Regions from separate parts of the Homo sapiens genome. Here region 2 is linked to region 1. Evidence: fine-mapped expression QTL. A gene starts in region 1. The other region holds a variant in brackets. All regions are shown on one strand. Distances are from middle to middle. Region 1 holds the start of LINC02450 (long intergenic non-protein coding RNA 2450). Region 2 overlaps LINC02450 (long intergenic non-protein coding RNA 2450).

Region 1 (2,818 bases):
TTGCCATCCATATATCTTTGTTGGTGAAGTGTGTGTTGAAATCTATTGCCCAGTTTTATTTTTCCTTATTGTTGAGTTTTGAGAGTTCTTTATATATTCAGCATACAAGTCCCTTATATGTATTTTACAAATATTTCCTTCCAGTCTGTGGTTTATCTTTTTATTCTCTCAACAGTGTCTTGTAGAAGCTTTTCATGTTGATAAGTCCAGTTTATACTTTTTTCTTTTGTGGTCCAGCTTTTGGTATATTTTCTTTTTTGTTTGTTTTTTGAGATGGAGTCTCACTCTGTCACCCAGGCTCACTACAACCTCTGGGTATATTTTCTAAAATCTTCACCTAAGCAAGGCTGTAAATATTTTCTTCTAAATTTTCTTTTGGAAATCTGTGTATAGTTTAGGTTTTTCATTTAGGTCTGTGATCCATTTTGAGTTAATTTATGGATAAGGTGAAAGGTATGGGTCGAAGTTCACTTCTTTTCACTTAAGGTTGTGTCTCAGAAAGCCAGCAACAATGTTGAGAAGGGATTGGAGAGACAAGAAAGTTGAATGTTTCTTAATTTATCTCTTGTTCTAGGACTTTGCGCATCAGTAGATAAATGGAAAAATCATTCCCAACACAGGGATTGCTGGCATTTATGAATCAATTACATTGATTTGGCCAATATGAATGGTAAAATATTTAAAAAATACATAATAATTAGCCTGTTGGACGTATGACTTAGTGATTTGGCTGTATAGATATAGCTTGAACCCTTCTTTTGATCCAAATTTACTCCCTTATTTATCACTTGAGAGTTATAAGGAATTTAAAAGGAAGAATGTTTTATCTTTTATGTTCTATGATTGTACATCTGAGTAAGACAATTGCTATTATGCTTTGCTAATACTCCTGGTGGTGTCATGATATAAGGGAAGATGAATTTACTTTGACTAATGTATAAGAAAAAAAATCTGTTTTAAGAAAATCGAGGTGTTGGCTTATGAAAGATGAAATTCCAGAGACTCCTCATTTATGTTTTAGACAACAAAAATAATACATAAGCAAATGGAAGAGAGGCAGGAGAATAGGGTCTGGAGTCAGGGAACCTAAGGCCATTTCACACTGACTTCCTAGAACTAAATTGAATGGAAAACCCTAACTTTGCACATCTAAGTAACAAAAGGACCAGGGGCTACTCCCTTTGCAAACCCCCACGTTTTCTGCATGGCAGATGGGAAATTGAAAGTACTTCTGATTGGTTGCTTTTTGCATAGGAGTGTAACTTTGTAACGTCAGCCTCTGATTGGTTGCAGATAGCAACCAATCAGACTGATCGCCAGCAAAGTCTTTGTTTGCATAGACGTTCAACTTTGTAACTTCACCTTAGTCTCTGAGGGCCACAGCTTCATTTACATGAGGTGAACACAAAGTGGCCAATGGGAAATCTCTAGGGGGTATTTGGACCTGAGAAGATTCTATATCCAGGCCCTTGAGCTGCTGCCGCTGCCGGCTCCCACACTGTGGAGTGTACTTTCACTTTCAATAAGTCTCTGCTTTTGTTGTATCATTCTTTCCTTGCTTTGCTGTGTGTTTTGTCCAATTCTTTGTTCAAAATGCCAAGAACCTGGCCAACTTGGAGTCAAGACCCTCTACCGGTAACAGAACTACTTCTTCCGCCCATTCTACAACTTCATTTTTAATGAATAATCTATGCTATTCTTGAATTTCTTTAAATTAAATTAATTCATTTAAACTATCAAGTGGAAAGTAGAGAGTAGGGGTTTAGGCTGTGGAATCCAAATACTCAGGTTCAAATCCTAGTGTCTCTAACTGCATGACGGGAAAGCTCCTTAAATGCTGTGATCTCATTTCCTCCTCTATAAAGTGTGAAAGATGATATTTATACATATGGCTCTTGTGAAAATTAATTGAAATAGTGCTTTAAATGCTTAACTAAGACTGATAAGTAGTATGTGATCAATAAATATCAGCTATTTTTAGTAAAATTGAGAGCTTCCTTTAAGCTATTCTATGCATTGTGAAAGGATATAACCATGGAACAATACAGGGCTTCCTTCCTCAGGGAGTTTGCAATTTGCAACTCATTTAGGGATGCAGATGTGTAAAGAATGACCACTTAAAATTCAACCAGAGGCTGCTCTGCCTATGGAGTGGCCATTCTTTATTACTTTCCTAATAAGCCTGATTTCACTTAAAAACCAGAATGAAATAAGTGTTGTATTATATTTGTTAGGTGAGGTTAGAGTGATTATCAACCCCTGGGTGGATTAGAGGATGTTTCAGCCAAGGACAGTGTTTGATTTGGACCTTGGAGGAGGAGTAGCGGTCTCATAAATGGAGAAGCAGAAGAGAATGACTCACACATTGGTCCAGAAAGGATTTGGAGAAGAATTCTCTTGAGCTGAAGAAGGAAGGATAGGGGGTGGTGGGAAAGAAGTGATAGAAAAAGCAAGTAAAGAACAGATTTTAAAGGGACCAGAATGCCAAGAGGAGAGGTTGGGCTTGGGCTTTTCTTATTCACCATATTTTATACCTTTTTCATATTAGTTCTTGGAAAAAGCCAGCCTGGAAGACTACTCATGAAAGGTTTTCTCTTCCTTTTAAAAAAAATATAAAACAAAAAACAAAAACCACCCTTGTAAATCATTAATGGCCCATTTTAAAAAGGAGATTACAGCCTGGGAGTTACTATTTTTCTGTTAGAGAAATAAAAAGGAATATGTTGAATTATATGAAATATGAATTGGCCTCTGTGCTCCAGTACCTATCTGGGACAGATTTATAAATACTGAAATGATATAAATGATGGTTATTCAA
Region 2 (2,818 bases), 24 kb after region 1:
CATGTCTCTTTGTATGTGTATATGGGCACTAATTTCATCATGACACCTCAACCCTCATGGCCTAATTGTTTCCTGAAGGCCTCATCTCCAAAGACCCTAACATTGGAGATTCAGGCTTCAAAATGCAAATTTTGGGGAGACACAAATGTTCAGTCCATAGCACCAATTTTGAAGCTCTTCACTTAGTAGGGCAACATTGGAAAAGTTATGTATAATAACTTCTCTGAACCTCACTATCATCATCTGTAAAGTGGAGGAATATCTACCTTGAAGTGAGGGCTAAGATAAATTATAGTGAAGGTTTATCATAGTGTCAAGCATTTAATGTCAGTTATTTAATATGTTATTTCTCCATCTTGTCCACTAGATACCACAAAATTGATCTGAAATTTCATTATCACAGTTTCAATATTTTCCTGTCTTTGGTCTTTTGGAACTTTCCCCCTTTTTTTTTTTTTTTTTTTTTGAGACAGAGTCTCACTCTGTCACTCAGGCTGGAGTGCAGTGGTGCGATCTCACTGCAAGCTCTGCCTCCTGGGTTCGCGTCATTCTCCTGCCTCAGCCTCCTGAGTAGCTGGGACTACAGGTGCCTGCCACCATGCCCAGCTAATTTTTTGCATTTTTAGTAGAGACGGGATTTCACCGTGTTAGCCGGGATGGTCTGGATCTCCTGACCTCATGATCCACCTGCCTTGGCCTCCCAAAGTGCTGGGATTAGAGACGTGAGCCATGGCACCTGGCTGAGCTTTTCCTATTTTTAATGACTTTTAAAGGATTAATTGGCAATGATCTTGATATAAGCCTAGAGATTTGTTTAACAGCTGAGAGCAATTATGACTTCCTATAGAGCACTAGATTAGCCTAGTGACTAATACAAATAATATCATTAATTTGGGTGCTGGGGAGAGGAACTCCATAAGAGTTGAGAATCAAACCTGGAAGTCAGACAGTAGCTTTTTTTTTTTTTTTTTTAAATGTGGTATGCAGAAGTGGAAGACCATGCAGGATAATTTTTATTAGATTTTATTACAGAACATTCAGCACAAATATTACTGCTCAGATTGGGGTGGGTGATTGTTGCATTTACTTGGACATTGTTTATCTGATAGTATCATCATGATTAGGAGGTTCTGGGATCAGACTGACCTGGCTCCATCATTTGCCAGTGTGTGTAAGGTCACAGCTGGAACCTTGACTGAGTCTGTTTGCTCGTCACTTAAATGGTATCCAGAACATAAGATGGTTTGAGGATCATGGGAGAATGTGTGTCTGAAGTGCTTATCCTGGTTCCTAGTCCATAGTGGTGGACTCAATAAATGGTAGCCGTGATTTTAACTATGGTAAGAGAAAATTTCGCAAAGGAACTGGCCGCCAAACACCACTAAAAATTTAATCATTGCCTTTTTTACAGCAGGCAGATTATAGGAATATTTGCTTTCTTTTCTCTCAAGGGTGTAACACTGTGACCAACGAAGAGAGTGTTTTCTATCAGTGACTCGCAGACTTCCCTTTCACTGGAATCCAGCTTATTAGCTGCATGGTTAACTTTGGAGCCAGGAAAACATCCTGCACATGACACTGCCATCAAGCAGAGGAGACATGTTTCTCGGCTTCC[C/A]CTCTCTGGGACTTAATAGCCTCTGAAGGCTAGCCTTTACTGACTCATGAAGCTGTGTCTGCCTGGGGTCAGTGGTGGAGACATTGCGTTAACCCCAGCAAGCGAGCCATCACCAGAGCTTTGCACAGGGAGACACCACATAGAAAGGCAGATGAGGCAACACACACACCATCCCCAGACAGCCATGGGTCCCCAGAGACAGGAAAAATATGTGTTTTCTTAAAGAATTAGAAAAGAAAACCTTGCTTTTTCCTGTGTGGCTCATTGGTAGGAGATCTCAAATTCTAACCCTTGTTTTCTCTTTTACCTCTCTGTCTGCTAAAAAGCACTCCTTAGATCCAGTATCTAGCATGGTGAGCCTCCTGGATGCAGTGCTGCAGTGGCCACTGCTGGGTCAAAAACAAACACTGGGAAAGGAGGAAAATGATGTTTTTCTCTCTTTCAATAAAGCATTTGAAATCTCTAGTTCTGTTTTCTCCTTTCTCTCTCTGGTGTCCCATGTATGCAGTGATGAGAAAGGAAGTTCTTCCATCTGGTGTTTGTGACTCAATTATTCCTAACCCATTTTTATGTTGTTCTACCAGTAGTAGTTCCCCAGGTGCAGGTCACCTTCCTCTCTTATGACTCCCTGTACTCCAGGCTGTTTCTGGGATAGGTGTTCATGGTTGGGGAGAAACTGTACTCTCAACATTAGCAGAGAACATTTACTGAGTGATTGTAAATTGGTCCCTAGAGAGGTCCTGGGACATTTTCTTAGTGAGCCAATGCTGACTTCTGGAGAGCATTCCTTAGTAGGTGTCAGGATCAGCTTCATAATCTAGTCTAGAACTTTGTTAAGCTCAAGCTTTATGATAATGTGTGTCCATTTGTAATTATCACCTCTAATCATCATCTGGAAATGTAGATTTCAATTTGTGTGCAAAGGTGCCCACTGCCTTGGTTTTCTAGTCTGTTTTACGTAGTCTATTCTGTGCTTTTTAAGTCGACATACATTTTCTTTAGTAGACAAGGAATGATACTCCTGTTAGTAATGAAGAGAATGGTCAAAAAAGGCTGGGGATATGGTTGGGGTTAGATTTGTGCCATCCACATATGGCGGGTGGCAACCATATTGGACGGTGTAGATGTAGAACATTTCCATGATCACGGAAAGCTCTATTGGGCTTGTCAGATCTGTGTTAGATGACCAAAAAGAGTAGGATC

Evidence for each region. PIP is the estimated chance that this variant, and not a neighbour inherited with it, causes the effect.
Region 2: its variant is the best candidate, but not a certain one, in a credible set for the expression of LINC02450 in tibial nerve (GTEx, PIP 0.70).

The regions. Positions count from the first base shown.
Region 1 is chr12:42,690,879-42,693,696 of GRCh38, forward strand. LINC02450 (long intergenic non-protein coding RNA 2450) reads left to right here and starts at 1,338. Exons shown (of 4, transcript NR_135028.1): 1 at 1,338-1,398.
Region 2 is chr12:42,715,040-42,717,857 of GRCh38, forward strand. It overlaps LINC02450 (long intergenic non-protein coding RNA 2450), which reads left to right. Exons shown (of 4, transcript NR_135028.1): 4 at 1,452-2,080. Among named protein-coding and RNA genes, the nearest start is that of LINC02450, 24 kb to the left of the region's middle. The variant C/A (reference allele first, on the strand shown) is at 1,616.